3 separate regions of the Homo sapiens genome follow, and all the other regions are linked to region 3. Evidence: fine-mapped expression QTL. A gene starts in region 3. Each other region holds a variant in brackets. All regions are shown on one strand. Distances are between the middles of the regions. Region 1 overlaps R3HDM2 (R3H domain containing 2). Region 2 overlaps R3HDM2 (R3H domain containing 2). Region 3 holds the start of R3HDM2 (R3H domain containing 2).

Evidence for each region. PIP is the estimated chance that this variant, and not a neighbour inherited with it, causes the effect. A credible set is the group of variants that fine-mapping cannot tell apart.
Region 1: its variant is the best candidate, but not a certain one, in a credible set for the expression of R3HDM2 in whole blood (TOPMed, PIP 0.82).
Region 2: its variant is the best candidate, but not a certain one, in a credible set for the expression of R3HDM2 in whole blood (TOPMed, PIP 0.82).

Annotation. Positions count from the first base shown.
Region 1 is chr12:57,384,339-57,392,521 of GRCh38, reverse strand. The region is part of intron 2 of R3HDM2 (R3H domain containing 2); the gene reads left to right. Among named protein-coding and RNA genes, the nearest start is that of R3HDM2, 43 kb to the left of the region's middle. The variant T/A (reference allele first, on the strand shown) is at 4,556.
Region 2 is chr12:57,371,029-57,379,211 of GRCh38, reverse strand. The region is part of intron 2 of R3HDM2 (R3H domain containing 2); the gene reads left to right. Among named protein-coding and RNA genes, the nearest start is that of R3HDM2, 56 kb to the left of the region's middle. RefSeq lists a silencer at 6,592-6,886. The variant A/G (reference allele first, on the strand shown) is at 3,864.
Region 3 is chr12:57,426,497-57,434,679 of GRCh38, reverse strand. It overlaps R3HDM2 (R3H domain containing 2), which reads left to right and starts at 3,637. Exons shown (of 24, transcript NM_001394031.1): 1 at 3,637-3,960. R3HDM2-DT (R3HDM2 divergent transcript) reads right to left here and starts at 3,564. Exons shown (of 2, transcript NR_185976.1): 1 at 3,250-3,564; 2 at 745-977. RefSeq lists a silencer at 3,736-4,205 and an enhancer at 4,386-4,495.

The DNA.
Region 1 (8,183 bases), 42 kb after region 3:
TGCTGGTCCAAGAGGTAAGCGGCAGGCGAGTGAACATTACCCCCTGAACTCAGCCTCCTGTCAGATCAGCAGTGGCATTAGATTCTCATAGGAGTGTGAACTCTATTGTGAACTGTGCATGTGAGTGATCTAGGTTGTATAGTCCTTAGGCAAATCTAATGCCTGATGATCTGAGGTGGAACAGTTTCATCCTGAAACCATCGCCTTACTGTCCATGGAAAATTTGTCTTCAACAAAACTGGTCCTTGGTGCCAAAAAGGTTGGAAACCGCTGTTATTTGTGTCCTTTTGCTCTGGCTGCTTTTAAGATTTTCCCTTAGCTGGGTGTGGTGGTTCATGAAGCCTGTAGTCTCAGCTACTTGGGAGGCCTGAGGTAGGAGGATCACTTGAGCATAGGAGTTGCACGATCTCGGCTCACTGCAACCTCCACCTCCCAGGTTGAAGTGATTCTCCTGCCTTGGCCTCCCAAATTGCTGGGATTACAGGTGCCCACCACCACACCTGGCTAATTTTTTGTATTTTTAGTAGAGACAGGATTTTGCCATGTTGGCCAGGCTGGTCTCCAACTCCTGACCTCAGGTAATCCACCCGCCTCAGCCTCCCACAGTGCTGGGATTACAGGCTTGAGCCACTGGGCCCAGCCGCTCACTTTTTACTATAGCTCTTTGCACATGTGGAATATAGTGGTAATAACTTTTCAAGTGTCTTTACAGATTCTATAATTTGTATCATTTATCAGTTATTTATTTTAACTTTTCATTGTGAAACAAGTATAGATTTATAGGAAGTTGCAAAAAGAGTATAGGAATATCCTATGATGTCCTTTTACTCAGTGTCTTCCATTGGTAACATCACATAACTATAGTACAATATTAAAGTTAGGAAGTAGCCATTGGTAAAATTTACAGAGTTTATTCAGCTTTGTCCAGTTTTACATGTACTTGTATTTGTGTATGTCGGTGTTTGAATTTCATAATGTGTGAATTTGTGTATCTACCATCACTGTGAAGATGCAAAACAGTTCCATCCCCACAAGGATCTTTCTTGTTGCCCTTTTATAACTACACCTGCCTCCCTCCATCCCATTCCCTGGAAACCACTAATATAATATTGTTATTTCAAAAACATTACACAGATGGAATCCTATAGTATATACAGTTGGCTTTTTTTCTTTTTGAGATTGGCTTACCCCAACCCCTGCCCCACTTAGCTTAATTATCTGGAGATTCATCAAAGTTGTTAGATGTATCAATAATTTGTTCCTTTTGATTGCTGAGTAGCGTTCCATGGTGTAGCTGTACGCATTTGCTTAATCATTCACCTGTTGAAGGACTTCTGTGTTGGTTCCAATTTTCATCTATTGCATATAAATCTACTATGAATATTCATGTCCAGATTTTTGTATAATTATTAGTTTTTATTTGTCTGTGATAAATGCTTAAGAGTCTAATTGCTGGGGGTATGGTAATTAGATATTTCTTTTCTTTCTTTCTTTTTTTTTTTTTTATTTGAGACGGAGTTTTGTTGTTGTTGCCCAGGCTGGAGTGCAGTGGCATGATCTCGGCTCACTGCAACCTCTGCTTCCCGGGTTCAAGTGATTCTTCTGTCTCAGGCTCCTGAAAAGCTGGGATCACAGGCAACCACCACCACACCTGGCTAATTTCCTGTATTTTTAGTAGAGACAGGGTTTCACCATGTTGGCCAGGCTGGTCTCAGACTCCTGACCTCAGGTAATCCACCCGCCTCACCTCCCAAAGTGCTGGGATTGCAGGCGTGAGCCACCTCACCCAGCCTGGTAATTACATATTTCTTTCTTCCTTTTTTTTTGAGACGGATTTCACTCTGTCATCAAGGCTGGAGGGCAGCAGTGTGATCATGGCTCACTGCAGCCTCGAACTCCTGGGCTCAAGTGATCCTCTTGCCTCAGCCTCCCAAAGTGCTGGGACCACTGGTACATTCCGCCTTGCTTGGCTAATTATTTTATTTTTGGTAAAGATGGGGTCTCACTATGTTGCCAAGCTGGTCTTGAACTCCTGAGCTCCAGTGATCTTCCTGTCTCAGCCTCCCAAAGTGCTGGGATTTCAGATGTGAGCCACTGCATTTGGCCTCAGTCCTATTTTCTTCACTCAGGGAGCATGCTGGACTCTGCCCTTGTTCCCCTTAGACTCTCCTTCCCTGTTACATTTCTTGGAAACACTGTTTAGGGATTAAGCCTGGATAATCACAGGACTCACCTCACTTGTTTCCCATCTCCCAAGGAATCACTATCGTTCACTGCCTGATGCCCAGTAACTTAAAAACTATTGTTTCATATATTTTTTCTTTTTTTCTTTCTTTCTTTTTTTTTTTTAGTTATTTCTCCTAGAAGGTATTCTGATTCTTGTTACTCTGTTAGCCAGAAGTGGAATCCCCTCCCCCAACCTGTAAAGTTTTCATTAGCATTATTACACCTATTGTTACTGACTACTATCCAATAATTCCTTTGTTTCTCGAATTCTTGAAAAGGGAACGGCAGCCAAATAGAGCTCAGACAAAAAAGATACTTCTGATGTTGTTCAGTGTCTCTTGAAGCCCACATAATTCCAGAAAATTGCAAATCAATCAGATACAGGCTTAGAGCTAGAAGTAGGTCAGCTACCATAGCACAAGATGATGGTGTGAAAATATTTTAGTGACAGCTTGTGCATGATAATATATCCTTTCTTGTTCAGGGTTCTTTTTGGATATAATGCTGAATTCTGGGTGTTATCATATGCTTTTTTTCTATTCTAATCTTTTTATTCTTTGTTAAAAAATATGGTCATGTTTATAAAATCACAACTTCTACATTTAAAGGGTAGGTTGACCAATTAAAGCAGCCTTTCCAACCTAAGTGCATCTGGCTAGGTAATTCTCTCTGAGCTTTATTATTTGTTTTAGAGCTTAGATCAGAGTTTGACAATGTAGTGTATATACTAAGATTTCTTAAAGATTTATCTGTGTATTCCAAGGTGTGCTTATCTGTGTAAAAAACTCAGCAAGACATGGCATTGCCACAGGCTATCAAACATTTGAAATATTCCTTTGGAGTTATTTTCTGGAATTAGGCCACTTTTCAATAATTAGATGACTTTGAGCTCTTGGAGTCATCTCCTAGAACCACCTTTGGAATAGAGCTGCCTCTGTGCTCGTCTTACCAGTAGAGTTTTATTTGTATTTCCAGCCTGTTGCTTCTGCTGATGAACCTGGGTATAGCTTTGTATATTAGTCAGCTATTTTCAACATTGCCTATCATGGTGCTTTGCAAGTGGTTACTCAGTAGTTATTTGCTGCATGAACGAATGTCTCTTCATTGAGTCACTGCATCAGTCACTTCCCTCCTAACGTTTCAGGGGATCTTTCCTTTTCCTCCCATCTCTATCCTTTTGGTTATTTTCCTTCTTGTTTGCATTTCCTCTGGAGGGTAGACCAAGAAGGCAAAGGAGATGAGTCCAAAACCATTCTGTTGTTTATTAGTAACCCTGATAAGAAAAAAAGTATTATATGAGAAAGGATTGAAATATTTGGTGAAAATCAGATTTTGGAGTTAATGCTGGATTTCATTTTTTCATTCTGTATCTCCCACTACTAGTTATGGATTCGGTTTTTGCTGTTTTTTCTTTTCTTCAAAGCCCTGACCATCTTTTTTTTCTTTAATTTATAGCTAGTGATGTCCTCTTACATTTTATTTTATTTCTCATTTTTATAACTTTTTCCCCCTCCATATGGAAGCCTCTTCCATGTGGAGTCCTAATTCGGGAAAAGGAGTCAGGCTGGCGGGACCAAGGGAATGCAAAAAGAGAAAGCAGATAAGCTGTAACTGCCTTCGTGGTCCAGGACACATAGCCCTCCTGCGCAAATAACTCATAATCTTCCTGCACCCAGCTATCACCAGACCCTCAGCTGATAGAAAAATGCAAGTTAGCTCACTGCAACCTTGACATTGTCAGTACTGCACAAGGTGTTATCATTAACCCTCTTCAGCACACAGCACAAGCACCATCTTATAGAATCCCCAGCAAGCAAGCCTTTGTGTCTCCTGGCAGCCAGTTCTTCTCTTGCTGACTTGTCGTTTGCTTTCTTACAACATATTTTCCTACTTTCGCTAATAAATAAATATGCCTTTCTTTACCTACAACTGTCTTGGTAAATTCTTTTTACTGCCTGCATGACACTGGCCCCAGATAGTTGCCACTCAAAATACTCCTCTTCTTTATCCCTTTAAATATTGGTGTGTCTTGGCCAGGTGTGGTGGCTCACGCCTGTAATCCCAGCACTTTGGGAGGCTGAGGCGGGCAGATCACCTGAGGTCATGAGTTCCAGGTCAGCCTGGCCAACATGGTGAAACCCCATCTCTACTAAAAATACAAAAATTAGCCAGGCATGGTGGCAGGCGCCTGTAATCCCAGCTAGTTGGGAGGCTGAGGCAAGAGAATCGCTTGAACCTGGGAGGCGGAGTTTGCAGTGAGCTGATATCCCGCCATTGCACTCCCACCTGGGGGACAAGAGCAAGACTTTGTCTTTTTAAAAAAAAAAAA[T/A]TTTTTTTGTCTGTCTTGAGGCCCCTGCTTCTCTTCTAGCCTTTTCTTTGGTTACTCTGCCACTGTTTTCATTGTGTTTTCTCCCTCTGTGACCCTGTTTAAAATCCAAGGTTTCAACTACTCTCAGTTTGGTGTTCTAGATTTCCAGTTCCACTGGTGTAACTATCCATTGGACACTTTTTGTCCGCCCATGGGCATAACATATTTATTATGTATGAAACAGAACTTTTTCTTTCCAAACTGGTTTCTTCTTCAGTATTCATATTTCAGTGAGTAGAAATATTATTCACTCAGTGGTTCTCAAACTTTCTGGTATCAGAACCCCTTAACACTCTTAAAAATGATTGAAATCTCCAGAGAGCTTTTGTCTTTGTGAGTTATAACATTAAATATTAATGATTAGAAGTTAAAACTGAGAAAATTTAAAATACCTATTTTTAAAAAGTATAAATTTACTAAAAGTGACAGTAAACCTTTGTCCAGAATTGGTGGGTTCTTGGTCTCACTGACTTCAAGAATGAAGCCACGGACCCTTGCGGTGAGTGTCACAGTTCTTAAAGGCGGTGTGTCTGGAGTTTGTTCCTTCTGATGCTCGGATGTGTTCGGAGTTTCTTCCTTCTGGTGGGTTCGTGGTCTCGCTGGCTTCAGGAGTGAAGCTACAGACCTTTGCGGTGAGTGTTACAGCTCATAAAGGCAGTGTGGACCCAAAGAGTGAGCAGCAGCAAGATTTATTGCAAAGAGCGAAAGAACAAAGCTTCCACAGTGTGGAAGGGGACCCCAGCCGGTTGCCACTGGTGGCTCGGGCAGCCTGCTTTTATTCTCTTATCTGACCCCACCCATATCCTGCTGATTGGTCCATTTTACAGAGAGCTGATTGGTGCATTTACAGTCCCTGAGCTAGACACAAAAGTTCTCCACGTCCCCACTAGATTAGCTATATGCAGCCCACTAGATTAGCTAGATACAGAGTGTTGATTGGTGTATTTACAAACCTTGAGCTAGATACAGAGTGCCAAAGGTGCATTCACAACTCCTTAGCTAGACATAAAGGTTCTCCAAGTCCCCACCAGATTAACTAGATACCAAGTGCCAATTGGTGCATTCACAAACCCTGAGCTAGACACAGGGTGCTGATTGGTGAGTTTACAAACCTTGAGCTAGATACAGAGTGCTGATTGGTGTATTTACAATCCCTTAGCTAGACATAAAGATTCTCCAAGTCCCCACCAGACTTAGGAGCCCAGCTGGCTTCACCCAGTGGATCCTGCACTGGGGCTGCAGGTGGAGCTGCCTGCGAGTCCTGCACAGTGGGCCTGCACTGCTCAGCCCTTAGGCTGTCCGTGGGACTGGGCGCGGTGGAGCAGGGGGCGGCGCTCGTCAGGGAGGCTCAGGCTGCGCAGGAGCCCACAGAAGCGGGGGGAGGCTCAGGCATGGCGGGCTGCAGGTCCCAAGCCCTGCCCCGAGGGGAGGCAGCTAAGGCCCGGCAAGAAGTCGAGCACAGCAGCTGCTTGCCCAGGTGCTAAGCCCCTCACTGCCCTGGTGGGCGGGGCCGGCTGGCCTCTCCGAGTGCGGAGCCTGCCGAGCCCACTCCCACCCGGAACTCGTGCTGGCCCGCAAGCGCCATGGGCAGCCTCGGTTCCCGCCCGTGCCTCTCCGTCCACACCTCCCCGCAAGCTGAGGGAGCCGGCTCCCGCCTCGGCGAGCCCAGGAAGGAGCTCCCACAGTGCAGCGGTGGGCTGAAGGGCTCCTCAAGTGCCGCCAAAGTGGGAGCCCAGGCAGAGGAGGCCCCCAGAGCGAGGGAGGGCTGCGAGCGCTGCCAGCACGCTGTCACCTCTCAAACCTATTGCATGTTAACATAAATTTGTATGAAAAATAACTTTTTACAAAACAGCAGCAACAAAATGTGGTGAGAAATGTGGCATTTTTTTTATTTTTGTAATTATTTTTAATGATGGTACTAATAGAAGACAGCTGGATTCTCATAACTGCATTTTCATTCAAATTAGTTACAATATTCCATTTCATATATCTTCTGGAAAATGCTACCATACACCCATGAGAGCATGACAGTGAAAAAGACAAACAGGGTTTTACTACTACTCTGAAAATGGTTTTGACCATGTAGTTTCCATGAAAGTCTTGGGGATTCCCAGGGGTTCCAGGCCACACTTTGAGAGCTGCTCTTCTGTCTAGTCCCCCAGGTGTCTTCTTAGATGTCTTCTCTCCCAGTCATTACACACATCTCATATGTTACTAAGTCTTTTTTTTTTTTTGAAGACGGGGTCCTGCTGTGTTGCCCAGGCTGGAGTGCAGGGCTCACTGCAGCCTCGACCTCTCAGGATCAAGTGATCTTCCCATCTCAGCCTCCCGACTAGCTGGGACCACAGGTGTGTGCCACCACCCCCAGATAAAAGTCTTAAAGTTAGGCCAGGCATGGTGGCTCATGCCTGTAATCCCAGCACTTTGGGAGGCTGAGGTGGGCGGATCGCGAGGTCAGGAGATCGAGACCATTCTGGCTAACACGGTGAAACCCCCTCTCTACTAAAAATACAAAAAATTAGCTGGGCGTGGTGGCAGGCGCCTGTAAGTCCCAGCTACTTGGGAGGCTGAGACAGGAGAATGGCGTGAACCCAGGAGGTAGAGCTTGCAGTGAGCCAGATTGCGCCATTGCACTCCAGCCTGGGCGACAGAGTGAGACTCCGTCTCAAAAAAAAAAAAAAAGTCTTTAAGTTTTTATCTCCTCAATGTATCTTAAGTCAGAGTCCCCTCATTCTACAGCCAGAGTACTTTTCTTCTTATTTGTTTGTTTGTTTGAGATGGAGTCTCACTCTGTTGCCCAGGCTGGAGTGCAGTGGCTCGATCTTGTGATATCTGCTCACTGCAACCTCCACCTCCTGGGTTCAAGCAGTTCTCTGCCTCAGCCTCCTGAGTAGCTGGGATTACAGGCACCTGCCACAACGTCCAGCTAATTTTAGTATTTTTAGTAGAGATGGGGTTTCACCGTTTTGGCCAGGCTGGTCTTGAACTCCTGACCTCGTGATCCACCCGCCTCGGCCTCCCAAAGTGCTGGCATTACACGTGTGAGCGACCACGCCTGGCCTGGGCCAGAGTACTTTTCACATTTTTTTCTATCTAGTGTTTTTGCCTCTATTCTTTTTTTTCTAAGCCATTCACATTGTAGAAAAAGTAATCTTTCTAAAATAGAAATCTGATGATGTAACTCCTTTCCAAAAGTCCTTTATGAGTTTCTTACAGCTTTATTAGTATGTAAGACTTTTTATAATCCTGTTTCTACTAACCTCTCTAGATTCTTCTCAAGCCATTCATTTCTCCATGGATACCTTTATGTTATAGCTTTCTTTATGCAATACTTGCAGCTCTGAGAAAAAATCATGGTGACCTGTACATCTGTATTAACAGTGTTGAGTTTGCACTTTTCTATGTACTTTACATATGTTATTTTTTTTATACAGCCTTCCAAAAGAAGTACTCTTATTATTCTGTTTTATAGATGAGGAAACTGAGAGAGATGATTGATCTCTTGTTAAACCTCTAAAATAATCTCAAGGAACATAGGCTTGTTTCCCTACTTTTCTTTTCTTTTTTTTTTTTTGAGACAGAGTCTTGC
Region 2 (8,183 bases), 55 kb after region 3:
TTAACCCTCTTAACAGTTCAGTGGTATTAAATACATTTATGATGTCATGCAGCCATCACCACCAATCCTTCTCCATAATTATTTTCATTTTGTAAAACTGAGAAATTTTGTACTCATAAAACAATAATTCCCCATTCTCCTCTCCCCCTTTCCCCCAGCCCTGGCAAGTACCATTCTACTTTCCGTCTTCTATGATTTTGAATATTCTAACTACCTCATATAAGTGGAATTATACAGAATTTGTCGTTTTGTGACTGGCTTTAGCGTGTCGTCAAGGTTATCCATGTTGCAGCATATGTCAGAATTTCCTTTTTAAGGCTGAATATTATTCTGTTGCATGTATATACCACATTTGGAACAAATCCATTCATTTGTTGATAAACACTTGCTTCTACCATGTAGCTATTATGAATAGTGCTGCTATGAACATGGATGTACAAATATCTGTTTGAGACCCTATTTTCAATTCTTTTGAATATATACCCAGAAGTAGAATTGCTGAATCAGAACTTAGACTTTAGTGAGAAGAATGAAAAATAGGCTGGGTGCAGTGACCTGTAATTGCAGCACTTTGGGAGGCCAAAGCAGAAGGATGTCTTGAGTCCAGGAGTTTGAGACCAGCCTGGGCAACATGGCAAAACGCTGTCTCTACAAAATACACAAAAAATTAGCCAGTCGTGGTGGCATATGCCTGTAGTCTCAGCTACTAGGGAGGCTGAGGTGGGAGGATCACTTGAGCCTGGGGTTAAGGCTGCAGTGAATCTTGAGTGCACCACTGCACACCAGCCTGGACAACAGAGCAAGACCCTGTTTCAAAAAAAAGAAAAATAATACCACCAGACAGACCAAGATGGAATCCATGAAAGCAAATCCTTAAAATGAGACCCACAAACAGCTCTCTTGATTATAGTTTATCTGAAATTGGCTCTACTTTTTTGCCCTTTCATGTCCCCTTTTTGCCCATGATAGGAAACAGAGTGATGACATAGCATGTAATAATAGTTTCATTTTGTTACAGATTTGCTGTGGGCCAGACACCCTGCAAAATTACTTTGAAAATTATATAATCACAGTATCCTATGAAAGGTGTTTTTTGTTTGTTTGTTTTTTGTTGAGACAGTGTCTTGCTCTGTTACCCAGGCTGGAGTGCAGTGGCATGATCTCAGCTCACTTTAACCTCCGCCTCCTGGGTTCAAGAGATTCTCTTGCTTCAGCCTCCCTTCAGCCTCCCGCGTAGCTGGGATTACAGGCATGCACCACCACACCTGGCTAATTTTTGTATTTTTAGTAGAGATGGGGTTTTACCACGTTGGTCAGGCTGGTCTCAAACTCCTGACCTCAAGCAATCCGCCCACCTCGGCCTCCCAAACTTCTGAGATTACAGGTGTGAGCCACTGCCCCTGGCCGAAAGGTTTCAACTTGCTTATTTTACATTGAGATAAAGAGAGGCTTAGAGAGGTGATTACTTATCTAGGATCACAAAGCCTGGTATGTGATAGGGCTAGGTAGGCATGGTCCTAATGTTATCAAGCAAAAGGGGCTTGCTGCCCAATGCACTACAAGCCAATACTATGACACTGAGTTTTTGAGAAAAGAAAAGCTTATATTGCCAGTTGACTCACAGGAGTCAAGCTCAAATCTGTCTCCTGGTGCAGTAATTTTATTAGAACAGGTTTAGCGGGTAGATTCTGGGATTACTAGGTGATTGGTGGAAGGAAAGGGGAGGTCTAGAAAGTCCTTGGCAGTACCCAGTTATCTCTTCATGACTCCTCATGGGTCCCATGTTCAAATTTGGGAGGAGTTAATATGAAGCATGTGGTGGCAATTCAGGCTGTGATGACGCTCCTTCAGAGTGAACTCTAGTTGGCTATATTGGTTGCAACTGATTTCAGCCAGTTTTGTTATCTTACAAGCAGAAGGAGTTTCAGTGTTTCAGAAAGTTGTTTCTTATCTGCTATCTTGCAAACTCAAGACTTTCTGTTAGTTACTGGTTTAAGTTTTTGGGGCATGGTTTTACTAACAACTTCAGTCCCTGGGCAACAGCATGAATGGAAGCCCACATTCCATATTTTTAATTTTTTTTTTTTTTCTGAGACCAAGTCTCTTTTATTTATTTATTTATTTATTTATTTAGCGTGGACCCAAGGAGTGAGCAGCAGCAAGATTTATTGCAAAGAGCGAAAAAACAAAGCTTCCACAGCATGGAAGGGGACCCAAGTGGGTTGCCCCTTTTTTAAAATTTTTTTTTATTTTTTATTTTTTTTACTGAGTCTCATTCTTTTGCCCAGGCTAGAGTGCAGTGGTGTCATCTCGGCTCATTGCAACCGCCGCCTCCTGAGTTCAAGTGATTCTTCTGTCTCAGCCTCCCAAGTAGCTGGGATTACAGGCACTTGCCACCACACCTGGCTAATTTTTGTATTTTTTAGTAGAGATGGGACTTCGTCATGTTGGCCAGGCTGGTGTCAAACTCCTGACCTCAGGTGATCCGCCTGCCTCAGCCTCCCAAAGTGTTGGGAGTATAGGTGTGAGCCACTGCCCCCGTCCCCATATTTCTAAATATTTAGTAGTTATAAATCAAGATTTTTAAAAAAGGAACTTAATAATTTTATTTCACTACAGCCTTGAACTTCTGGCTTCAAGTGAACCTCCTGCCTCATCTTCCTGAGTAGCTGGGACCACAGGCATGTGCCACCTCACCCAGTAAATCAAAATTAAAAAACTGTTAGAACTTTGAGGGGAAATTATTTTTTGAGACAGAATAGGATGGTTCAGGGATATCCTACAAGCCTAGTCTCCATCTGTACCCTTCCCGTTGTTTGTCCCTTGCCCACCATTCAGGCAATGGAACGTGTATAACAGAAGGTTATTGTCCATGGAAGGACAAAGTTTGAGATGAGAAGAAATCCACTGAAGGCCCTGATTGGGGTTTGGGGCTGCTTAGGCAGGAAAACCTGGGATCTGGAGCATAGCTGAGAGTAGTCGAGTAAGGCTCTTCAGGTAGGTATGTCCTCTGGTCCCATGGACATCTTGCCCTGAGGGCATGGGCAAGTCAGAGGAGGGTCATAGTGGTTCTATCTTCAATGAAGGACCCAGAATAGGTCCAAGACCAAGAGTGCCAGAACTCAAAACTGGGCCCCTTTGACCATGCTGTCTGTTGTTAATAGTAAGAAAGCCTGGGTTTACAGAATGAGATGATGGCTTACTCTGGTTGATGGAGAGGGGTTAGAAAGCAGCTGATCTGGCTGGGCATGGTGGCTCACGCCTGTAATCCCAGCACTTTGGGAGGCCGAGGTGGGTGGATCACGAGGTCAGGAGATCGAGACCATCCTGGCTAACATAGTGAAACCCTGTCTCTACTAAAAATACAAAATATTAGCTGCACATGGTGGTGTGGGCCTGTAATCCCAGCTACTCGGGAGGCTGAGGCGGGAGAATTGCTTGAACCAGGGAGTCAGAGGTTGTAGTGAGCCGAGATTGCACCGCTGCACTCCAGCCTGGCGACAGAGCAAGACTCCGTCTCAAAAAAAAAAAAAAAAGCAGCTGATCTGACCTGGATAAGTACTTTAAATGGACCATATTTTGAAAGAACCAGCCTGTTTCTCCTTTGAAAATACAGTTTAGTATTTACTCATAGAGTCTAGAGAATTTAAGAATTGAAAAAACGCTGCTTCTTCCAAGTGCATTCTGTTCTGGTCTTTGCACAGTGTAAGTTGAATGGCACAGTTATGAAGAGATATAGCCATTTTTTTCCTCTAAAAATAGGTGAGGCAGGAGCATATTCATCTGATATTCATCTGATTATATGTTGGTTTGCAGTTTATACTGAACAAGAATTTTTTTCGATACCATTTGTTTGCTTACTT[A/G]GGATAAAGTAATGTATAAAAGGATCAGATTATGGTTTTATATTCTATATTATACTTTTATAGGGAGATTAGACATAAAAATTGTCTTATATTGTCCTAAAATTTCCAGTTGTCTGAAATTAATCTCAGACTTATGAAGAGAGGTGTATATTTTTATTTATTTTTAATTTTTGAGAGGTGTATATTTTGATGGCTGCAGAGAAATGCAGTTTTGGATGCAGAATATTATTTCTTCGTCACATAAATTGTTGAGTTTGTGGAATATGTCTGGTCTGGTCATTTTTTTTTTTAAATGGTTAATTTTATGTGAATGTCACTTCAATTTTATTTATTTATTTATTTATTTTTTTTTTGAGATGGAGTCTTGCTCTGTCACCCAGGCTGGAGTGCAGTGGCATGATCTCGGCTCACTGCAAGCTCCGCCTCCCGGGTTCACGCCATTCTCCTGCCTCAGCCTCCAGAGTAGCTGGGACTACAGGCGCCCGCCACCACGCCCGACTATTTTTTTTTTGTATTTTTAGTAGAGACGGGGTTTCACCGTGTTAGCCAGGATGATCTTGATCTCCTGACCTCGTGATCTGCCTGCCTCAGCCTCTCAAAGTGCTAGTATTACAGGCGTGAGCCACCGCGCCCGGCCTTTTTTTTTTTTTTTTTTTTTTTTTTTTAAGATAGAATTTCTCTCTTTTTGCCCAGGCTGGGGTGCAATGGCGTGATCTTGGCTCACTGCAACCTCCGCCTCCTGGGTTCAAGTAATTCTCCTGCCTCAGCCTCCCAAGTAGCTGGGATTACAGATACCTGCCACCATGCCTGGCTAATTTTTTGTATTTTTAGTAGAGACAGGGTTTTACCATGTTGGCCAGGCTGGTCTCGAACTCCTGACCTCAGGCTGCCTTGACCTCCCAAAGTGCTGGGATTACAGACGTGAGCCACCACGCCCGGCCTGGTCTGGTCATTCTTGTCATTCTCAAGATAACAGTTTTATGATTGACTGTCCAGCCACACACTATTCATCAGACTTCATACTTTTTTTTGAGATGGTCTCACTCCCATTGCCCAGGCTGGAGTACAGTGGCACGATCACGGGTCCCTGTAATCTCGACCTCCCCAGCCTCAGGTGATTCTCCCACCTCAGCCTTCTGAGTAGCTGGGACTGCAGCTCATTATTACATCGTATTTTCATTGTTAAGAGTGGGCAGGGACCATATTTTTTTGTTTTGTTTTGAGACAGAGTCTTGCTCTGGCACCCAGGCTGGAGTGCAGTGGTGCGATCTCATCTCACTGCAACCTCTGTCTCCTGGGTTCAAGCAATTCTCCTACCTTAGCCTCCCGAGTAGCTGGGATTACAGGTGCCCGTCACCACCCCCAGCTGATTTTTGTGTTTTTAGTAGAGGCGGGGTTTCACCATGTTGGCCAGGCTGGTCCTGAAGTCCTGACCTCAGATGATCTGCCCACCTCGGCCTCCCAAAGTGCTAGGATTGCAGGCATGAGCCACCACGCCCTTATTATTATTATTATTTATTTATTTATTTATTTTTGAGAAGGAGTTTTGCTCTTGTTGCCCAGACTGGAGTGCAATGGTGCGATCTCAGCTCACCCCAACCTCTGCCTCCTGGGTTCAAGTGATTCTTTTGCCTTAGCCTTCCAAGTAGCTGGGATTACAAATAGGCATGCGCCACCACCCCCCGCTAAGTTTGTATTTTTAGTAGAGACAGGATGTCTCCATGTTGTTCAGGCTGGTCTCAAACTCCCGACCTCAGGTGATCTGCCCACCTCGGCCTCCCAAAGTGCTGGGATTACAGGTGTGAGCCACTGTGCCCAGCCTCTATTATTATTATTACATTTTTTTTTGTGAGACGGAGTCTTGCTCTGTCACCCAGGCTGGAGTGCAGTGGCGCGATCTTGGCTCACTGCAAGCTCCGCCTCTGGGGTCATGCCATTCTCCTGCCTCAGCCTCCTTAGTAGCTGGTACTACAGGCGCCCGCCACCACGCCCGGCTAATTTTTTGTATTTTTAGTAGAGACGGGGTTTCACCATGCTAGCCAGGAAGATCTCAATCTCCTGACCTCGTGATCCACCTGCATTGGCCTCCCAAAGTGCTGAGATTACAGGCGTGAGCCACCGCGCCCGGCTTGTTATTACTGTTTTTAGAGACAGAGTCTTGCTTTGTCATCCAGGTTGAAGTGCAGCAGCACAGTCATAGCTTACTGCAGCCTCAAACTCCTTGGCTCAAGTGATTCTCTCACCTCATCCTCCCAAGTAGCTAGGACTACAGGCACGTGCCACCATGTCCAGCTAATTTTTTGTAGAGATGGGGGTCTCACTACATTGCCCAGGCTAGTATCAATCTCCTGGCCTCAAGCGATCCTCCCACTTTGGCCTCCTGCCAAAGGGCTGGGATTACAGGCACAAGCCCCCATGCTTGGCCAGAGTTGGAGTTTAATTTAAATCTGGGAAGACCATAATCATGGATTTTGTTCAGTTTTCAAGCTACCCTTTTTATTGATTGGTGTGACTCTTGTGTTTGCATGTGTTGACTTGTAGGATCTATTAGAGGTGGAAAAAGGAATAGCAAAATATTGAGTGCTATCTCAGTACTAGAGGCATAATTAGTAGAAGTCTAAATTGATGTTAGACCTAGAATTTGGTGGTGTGGAAAATCGAGTTTTAATCCCTTATTTTTTAAAAAACATATCTTCCTATGTCATTTAGATTTGCTTTCTCTATCATAACTGCTCTTTCCAAATAGTACCATTGTTTATTAGCTCTCTTGTTATCAGATTTGCCAAATTCCTGAAAAATATTTGATTTTTGAGGAAGTACATTAGAGTTTGGCATTTGGTTTGCGTGCCAATTTCAGCAGCACCCTTTATTGCAAAGAGCTTGGGAATTTGTTGACAGAAATCCATTTTCTCTGTGACTCCTGATTCCCCCCACACCCCCGCCCCAAGGCTTTCTAGCCTGTGGTCTATTTTTAAATCCTGCTGCTGTGCTCTGTATTGCGGCAGTTCTTTTCCTGAATTATTTATCATTGTTGGGAGCTGAATGGAGCACTATGTTTTTTCACCACTGCTCATTAGGACCCACGTGTCTGTCTTCAACTTGGATGACATACCTGGTTCATGTTAAATCCCACTGGTCCATCCTGGGAAGGCTTTGAGATAATATAAGAACAGGCCACAGTTGGCTGGGTGCAGTGGCTCACACCTGTAATCCCAGCACTTTGAGAGTCCAAGGTGGGTGGATCACCTGAGGTCAGGAGTTCAAGACCAGCCTGACCAATGTGGAGAAACCTCATCTCTACTAAAAATAAAAAATTAGCCCGGTGTGTTGGTGCATGCCTGCAATCCCACCTACTTGGGAGGCTGAGGCAGGAGAATCGCTTGAACCCGGGAGGCGGAGGTTATAGTGAGCCGAGACCGCACCATTGCACTCCAGCCTGGGCAACAAGAGCGAAACTCCGTCTCAAAATTAAACAACAACAACAAAAAAGGACAATCTATGATATGTTGTAAAATCATTCGGACTTTTGGATTACTGTTATTTTGTTTCAGCAGCAGTGGGACAGAGAGAAGCTATGCCATATCCTTCCCTTAGACTATGCTCAAAGATATTATGTTATACTGGCTTTTCTGATGATATTTACTTTTTGTTTTTATAGTTGTTGCATTGATGTTACTCATTTAGGAAAGGTGAAAGAGAAATCCCTATGAGAAGCACAATGTTAAATCAAGATTCATTTTAGTTATAAATATGACCTGGATATTTGGAGATATCTTGAAATTCTCTGTTTTGGGGGTTTGGGTTGTGGGGGATTGGCTTGTTTTGTTTGGGAGTATTTCTTCTCATTGCCTGTCTTCTTATCTTACTACAGACTATAGGCTTGGAAGAAGAATGACAAAACCTAAGCACAAGGCAGTTATCTTGAATGATATTTCTTACCTTTTCTGTTTTGCAGGACATCAGAACTGATGTTTCTTTTTTGTTTTCGTTCTATTTTTTTCTGCATCCTGTCTTTCATGAAAATATTTTTCTCTCCCTTGATATCACTGCTTTTTTCTTTTTGATATATGAATACACAGCTACTCCTGTGTTCTTTACTTCTTTAAACAGTTAACCCTTTTATGTTACTGTAGGCAGAAAAAGGGTAGCTGTTAATCATTTAGGCACTGAAGAGGGTAAAACTTTGTTTGCCTGCCCTAGTTTGTTGGGTGTCTCTGAGTTTGTGTGTGTATCTTAAAAAAAAAAAAAAAAAAAAAAAAAAAAAAGTAATGGTATATATTTGGTTCCCATTCTTGGAGTAATGATGAAATATTTTTATAT
Region 3 (8,183 bases):
CGCATAGTCAGTGAAAGTACAGAGTGGGGGATGTGAGGAGAGGTTGGTTTGTTTAGGGAAAGACACGTCCCTGGGCCAATGTTGGGAGACAGTTGTTATCCATGTGAGCTGCCAGGCCTGGGGTTCAAAGGTGAGAGATTAAATTCCTCCTCAGATCTCTACCCTTGCTGGGAATCCTGGGGATGGTGGAAAGGGACAGATCACAGGTTTTGGGAAAGAATGTTAAAGGGAGACTCTCAAACAAGAAGGGGTCATTGGCAAGGCACTTTAGCTCACTGTCACGCATGAACAATTGAGAGTTGCATTCTTTTTTGCCTGGTGTTTCTCAAAGCCCATCCCCATCCCTCCATCCTCCCTCCTGGGGTTCTCAATCCAGCCTTATTTGTTAGCCCTGGTTGAGTTTTGCCCAAGAGGTCTCAAAACTATGAAGTCTGAAGGTTAAGGGAAGGGAGGCACAGTGTTCTAGCCATGTCTTTGATGCTCTCAGAGGGAACTCCTAAGGTGGGGAAAGGGCTTGAGTTCCAGATTTGCTCACCCTTTGGGGTTTTTTTCTGTCTTGGAAAAGAAGTTTTGAGATTCCCTTTTTTTTTTTTTCTTTTGAGATGGCGTCTCACTCTGTCGCCCAGGCTGGAGTGCAGTGGCATAATTTCAGCTCACTGCAACCTCTGCCTCCCGGGTTCTAGCAGTTCTCCTGCCTCAGCCTCCTAAGTAGCTGGGATTACAGGTGCGTGCCACCATGCCTGGTTAATTTTTGTATTTTTAGTAGAGACGGGGTTTCACCATGTTGTTCAGGCTGGTCTTGAACTCCTGACCTTGTGATCCACCCGCCTCGGCCTCCCAACATGCTGGGATTACAGGCGTGAGCCACCGTGCCTGGCCAGGAGTATAGGTTTTAAATCCAGGTATTCTTGGTTGTTGTTCTTCAGTTCTTGCACTTGTCTCAGAAACATTTCAGGCTTTCATTCTGTGTCATGGCACTGAGAAAATAAAACAATTTTAATCTGGGAAATGCAAGTCTTTGAAGATTATCAGGCTCAGAGAGACATTAAAATGAGACAGCAGACCAGGCATGGCGGCTCAAGCCTATAATCCCAGCACTTTAGGAGGCCAAAGCGGGCAAATCATTTGAACTCACGAGTTCAAGACCAGACTGGGCAACATAGCCAGACCCTATCCATACTAAAATAAAAAATAAATAAATAAAATAAAATTTAAAAAAAGCTGGGAGTGGTGGTGTGTTCCTGTAGTCCCAGCTACTCAGGAGGCTGAGACTGGAGGATCATTTGAGCCCAGGAGGTTGAAGGTGCAGTGAGCTGTAATTGTACTGCTGCACACCTGCCTGGGAAATAGAGTGAGAGCCTGTCTCAAAAAAATAAATAAAAAATAAATAAATAAAATGAGAGGGCAATCATGTCCTACTTCCTGCTTTTGAGCTATGTATTCATCTCTTGAAATTGCTTGCTATTGCCACAAGTAACTATAAATTAACATAATAATGCTGCACTGGACACTATAACCTAGATCCTATAGCTTAACAATCTATAGCCAATCACTAATCAATGTTATTTCTGTAAACCAACAAGAATACCCGACAACTTTGTATCAGTCTACTCCCTGTCTCCTTCTTTTTTGCCCTTAAAAATGTGCTTGTAGGCTGGGCGTGATGGCTCACGTCTGTAATTCCAGCACTTTGGGAGGCTGAAGTGGGCAGTTCACTTGAGGTCAGGAGTTCGAGACGAGCCTGGCCAGCATGGTGATACCCCATCTGTACTAAAAATACCAAAGAAAAATAAAAAAATAAATAAAATAAAAATAAGCCGGGCGTGGTGGCACATGCCTGTAGTCCCAGCTACCTGAGAGGCTGAGGCAGGAGAATCACTTGAACCCGGGAGGTGGAGGTTGCAGTGAGCTGAGATCATGCCACTGCACTCCAGCCTGGGCGACAGAGCAAGACTCCGTCTCAAAAAAAATAAAAAAAAATCTGGAACTTTGGTTTCATTATTGTGCCTCAGGTTTCCTCATCTATAAAACAGGTATAATAATAGTACCTATTGTATTGAGGATTTGATACTAACAATAGATGTAGAATGCTACACATTTTATATTGTACTTACATACACATAATACAAATATTAGCTATTATTTCCTACTGGTCATCACTGCCTGGTCTGGAACTCCTGAGCTCAAATGATCCACCTGCCTTGGCCTCCCAAAGTGCTAGGTGTGAGCCACTGCGCCCGGCCAAGACAAAAAGTTTAAATCGTGGTGAAAAGTGGCAGGTTAGATCAGTTCAGTTCAGTTGTATTTTTCTTCCCCCGTTGTTGTTCTCTAGAGGGTTGAGAGAATTTGGGGGCAGGAGGCAGTGATGACCAGGAGAGAGGGCTGGGCAAGGTGGCTCACACCTGTAATCCCAGAACTTTGGAAGGCCGAGGCGGGTGGATCACCTGAGGCCAGGAGTTCGAGATTAGCCTGGCCAACATGGCAAAACCCCGTCTCTACTAAAAATACAAAAAATAGCCGGGTGTGATGGTGCGTGCCTGTAGTCCCAGCTACTCCGGACGCTGAGGCAGGAGAATCACTTGAACCTGAGAGGTGAAGGTTGTAGTGAACCGACATTGCACCACTGCAATCTAGTTGCCTGGGTGACAAAGCGAGACCCCATCTCAAAATAAATAAAACAAACAAACAAACAAACAAAAAACGCCAACCAACCTGGAACTTGCTCATCCTTGAAGGAAAGATGAACTTCATGCCTCTATGACTTTGCTGGAATCTCCATTCTTACCTCTCTAGTGAACTATTTATAGTCTCAAGATTAGCTGGAGTTTCACCTGTAGTTTCTCTGTAACTTACTCAATCTCTTTTACCGCTAAGAACGAATTGCTGTTCCTTGTGTTTCCATAGCACATTTAAACCTTTCTATTATAGCACTTAAATTGTACTATAATTATTTGACTTTTTTTGCCTACCGCAGTTTCTGTCACAAGGTAAATATTTAATGGTCGAATTCTACAAAAGACTACATTGCTTCTTTGAGGGAGTTTGGTCAGTAAATTATCCACACACACATAATCAATAACTAAATTGATTCTGCCTAGAATGGACAAAACGGGGGAGGCTGGACATTTAAGACGATTTTTGAGAACTGTATCTTAGAGAGGGGATGATGGTAAGAATGTGATCTTAATAGGACAGACTGAGTTCCTCCTAGGTCGGTTTTTTTCATCTTTACGTAAAATGGACATTTACCTGCTCAACTATAGTTATCCACGTATGCAACAAATACCGAGTGTACGTTCTTTTGGTACAGGAGTTACTGCCCTAAGTGAAAGTGCTCTGTAAATGGAAATTACTTTAGAATGATCACTATTAGTATTATATTGAAATCCAGGGTATTCTATCTGACAGACTTGAAGGGTTTAAGGAGGACCGAGGCTCCCAGTGACTCCGGATTGGTGTCCTGACACAGGTAACGCGGAAGGAGGAGAGGGCGAGCGAGCGAGTGCGAGTGCGCGCGCGCCGGCGGGAGTGCGTGCGGCAGGCGGTAGGCCCCGCAGGGCTGCTGAGGGGCACGCGGGAAGCCAGGAAGCAGGGACGGCCGGAACGCAGGACGAGGTGACGACAACGCCGGACGTAGTGACGTAGCGCGCAGCCGCAGCGGGGGGCGGACTCTGGGCTTTTCTTCCCCTTCTGATTTTCCCCTCCCCCCTTTTCTCCCTTTCCGGGTTTGGTTCCCCCCTTTTCTTCCCCTCTCCCCCCTCCTTCCCAAGCCCCTTTCCCCTCCCCCGTCCCAGTCCCCCCTGCTTCCCAGCCCTCGGCCCCGGGGAAGCCCCGGCCGAGAAAAGCCCGCCCCCAGAAGCGCGCCGCCGCCGGCCGTCGGGGCCGAGCCGCAGCCGAGCGGCCGTGGGCCCGGGCGGCGGGCGGAGACGTGGGCGCCCTCCCCGCCAAGGCCCGTGCGAGGTGAGGCCACCTCCCGGCCGAGGGGGCGGGCGGCCCGGACGGCCTGTGGGGAGGGGGCGTGGCGGCCGCACGGGCGGGCGCGAGGAGGCCCCGCGGCCTGGGTTCCTCGCGCCCGGCAGCCGGTCCCGGGGACGATGGGTCAGGGTCGGATGGCCGCGGGAAGGACTGCTCCAAGTGTGCGCTGCTGGAGAGAAGCTGGGGGCGCGGGGCGGAGGGCGGCGGTGCGGGGGCAGGGGGGTGGCGCCACCTGTGGCCTTTGCGGGGTGACCTAAAAACTATTGCGCCCTTCCAGTGCTTCGGGGTGGCTAGCTCCGTGTGTTTCTTGGGTGGCGGTTTTCCTTCGAGCGTGGAGCATGGAAAAATAGGACGGAGAGGTGTAGAAGTGTTTAAAATCATGCTGGTGTCCAGGTTTCTTACAGGGACGGGGATTTGAGTTGGCACATACAGGGAGATGTTTCTATAGCTTAAAACTTGGGCCTACACTAAGCTCATAACTACTCGAGCCCCTGAAAACGCTTCGATTCGTTTTCCCGTAGAGCTAACATTTTTCAACATTTGTGGCCATTAAGTCTCGGAACTACCAGGAATACTGACTTAGAGTGAATTGTCATTGGATAATGATGAGAAATGACCGAATAACAATCCCAGAACTGCGTTAAAACGGAAGAAAGAAAAGTGGAAAAGTTTGAATTCAGATCCCAGTTGGATGAATATCCTTGTACATAATGTTGTTCAAATAGATAACTAAGATTGAGAAGCCTGAGTCCTGTCTGATATGCGTAAGCCACGTGGAGACTCAAGGAAGGAGGAAAGTGACAGGTTTCACTTCAGGAATATCACAAATTCCTAGCATTTTCTTGTATTTTTAGATAGATTTGCAGTTGAATTATTTGTGGCTCTTCTTCCTAATGCTTTTTTTTGTTGTTGTTCCACCAATATTCCCCCCCCACCCCCGCCCCCCTTTTTGTTGCTGGGGTATCAAGACAAAAGGTTGTATTTTGTTTTTTGAGACAGGGTCTCAGTCTGTCACCCAGAATGGAGTGTAGTGGTTCCTTTTCGGCTCAATGCAACCTCTGCCTCCTGGCCTCAAGCCGTCCTCCTACCTCAGTCCCCCAAGTAGCTGGGAGTACAGGCATGAGCCACCACTCCTGGCTGATTTTTGTAGAGACGGGTTTCACCTTGCTGCCCAGGCTGGTCTGGAACTCCTGGGCTCAAGTGATCCACCTGCCTTGGCCTCCCAAAGTGGTAGGCTTGAGCCACCGCGCCGGGAAAGACAAAAAGTTTAAATAGTGGTGAAAAGTGGCCGGTTAGATTAATTCAGTTCAGTTTTTAGTTGTATTTTTCTTACCCTGTTGCTGTTCTCCAGAGAGTTGAGAGAAAAGATAACTTTTTTCTTGAAGGCCTGATGAACTCCTAACAAGTTAAATTTCAGAGTTGAAGTTCCATTTGTCTTTGTGTCCATTATATGATTAGTAGAGCTTCACAATTTTTTTTTCGTAGGGATGGGATCTTGCTATGTTGCCCAGGCTGGTTTTGAACTCCTGGCCTCAAGTGATCCTCTGGCCTCAGACTCCCAAAAGCACTGGGATTACAGGCGTGAGCCATTGCTCTTGGCAGAGCTTCACAATGTAAAGTTTTAAAAAAATTTGACAAATAAAAATAGCATGCCTGACTGGCCGGGCACGGTGGCTCATGCTGTAATCGCAGCACTTTGGGAGGCGAAGGCAGGTGGATCACCTGAGGTCAGGAGTTTGAGACCAGCCTGGCCAACATGGTGGAACCCCGTCTCTACTAAAAATACAAAAAGTAGCCAGGCGTGGTGGCAGGCACCTGTAATCTCAGCTTCTTGGCAGGCTGAGGTGGGAGAATCATTTGAACCCAGGAGGCGGATTTTGCAGTAAGCCAAGATCGTGCCACTGTACTCCAGCCTAGGCAACAGAGCGAGAGACTGTCTCAAAAAAAAAAAAAAAATAATAGCATGCCTAATATTTTTTAATGGAAAATTAAGACAGGAGATGGCTTCCTTTCTCTTTCAAAATAAAAACCAATGTTACTTTTTGTTGTTGTTGTTCTTTCTCGCTATGTCACCCAGGGTGGAGCGCAGTGGTGCAATCTCGGCTCACTGCAAGCTCTGTCTCCTGGGTAAATGCCATTCTCCTGCCTCAGCCTCCTGGGTAGCTGGGACTACAGGTGCCCCCCCACCACGCCCCCCACCACACCCCCCACCATACCCGGCTAATGTTTTGTATTTTTAGTAGAGACGGGTTTCACTGTGTTAGCCAGGATGGTCTCGATCTCCTGACCTCGTGATCTGCCCACCTCGGCCTCCCAAAGTGCTGGGATTACAGGCATGAGCCACCGCGCCCAGCCAAACCAATCTTAGCTTTAAAGCTCTAGATCTGTGGCACCCTTTTCCCCTAACATGCACACTGGCCTCTGGCTGTTCCTTGAGCACACTAGGCACACTTCTGCCTCAGGGTCTATGCTCTTGTTTCCTCTTCCTGAGTTACTTTTCTCTTACAAAGCTGTGTAAGAGCATAGCCTGTCTGTCCCCTCATCTCCTTCAGGTCTTTACTCAAATTTCACTCTTTTTTTTTTTTGAGATGGAGTCTCGCTCTGTCACCCAGGCTGGAGTGCAGTGGCATGATCTCGGCTCACTGCAACCTCTACCTCCTGGGTTCAAGCGATTCTCCTGCCTCAGCCCCCTGAGTAGCTGGGATTACAGGTGCCTGCCACCATGCCTGGCTAATTTTTTTGTATTTTTAGTACACACAGGGTTTCACTATATGTTGGCCAGGCTGGTCTTCAACTCCTGACCCTAAGTGATCCACCCACCTCCACCTCCCAAAGTGTAATCCCAAAGTGTAGGGATTACAGGTGTGAGCCACTGCGCCTGGCCCAAATGTCACTCTTAACACTGATATTCCCTTGGCTATCTGGATGGCAAAGCCCCTCCTGCATACACATTTACATAACTCTCTATCCCCCTTTTCTGCTTTATTTTCTGCCTTAACCCTTATCAACCTATAACGTATTATATATTTTAATCTCCCCTAGTAGAAAGCTTCAGGGCCAGGCGCAGTGGCTCACACCTATAGTCCCAGCACTTTGGGAGGCCAAGGACGGGGCATCACCAGAGGTTAGAAGTTCGAGACCAGCCTGGCCAACATGGTGAAACCCCATCTCTACTAAAAATACAAAAATTAGCTGGGTGTGGTGGTACACGCCTGTAGTCCCAGCTACTTGGGAGGCTGAGGCAGGAGAGTGGCTTGAACCTGGGAGGCTGAGGTTGCAGTGAGCTGAGATCGTGCCACTGCACTCCAGCCTGGGCAACAGACTGAGACTTTGTCTCAAAAAAAAAAAAGCTTCAGGAGAGCAGGCATTTTTGTTTTATTTATTTTATTTTATTATTATTTATTTATTTTTTTTGAGACAGAACCTCTGTCTGTCGCCCAGGCTGGAGTGCAGTGGCACGATGTCAGCTCACTGCAACCTCCACCTCCCGGGTTCAAGTGATTGTCCTGCCTCAGCCTCCTGAGTAGCTAGGATTACAGGCACGCGCCACCACGTCCAACTAATTTTTGTATTTTTAGTAGAGATGGTGTTTCACCGTGTTGGTCAGGCTGGTCTTGAACTCCTGACCTGGTGATCCTCCTGCCTCGGCCTCCCAAAGTGCTGGGATTGTAGGCGTGAGCCTCTGTGCCCAGCCACATTTTTGTTTTATTAATTTCCGTATCCTCAGCACTTAGCACAGCACTTGATGTTCAGTAAAGTGCACAACAGATTTATTGACTGAGTAGGTAAGGAGGAGTTTTTTCCTTGAACTCTTTCCATGAATTTTTCATCGTGATTAGTTGTCCTTGGAAGGGTGGGATGGGTTTTCACTAGGAAAACCTGGTTTTCTAAGGTACTCATTGAGAGATGTTGAGATGTTTTTTCTGGGGATGTTTCTCTTTGGACAAACATCTCGTGCTTTGGGGCCATTGAATGAAAATACTCTGAGGGCAGAGAAGAGGATGGAGTGTGGAAGTCTTTGGTATTGGTAGTCTTATCTCAGATTTATTGTGGCTAGAATTTTTACCTACTTCATGCTCTTCCCTTGAGGTTTGTTCATGTCCCTTCCAAGACAAATATCACTCGTTACTTCTCTGACCCTACCTAGCTGAGCAGGCTGGTTCCACTTTGAGTTTTCAGTAGCCTGAAGATGTTAATATTTATAGTTC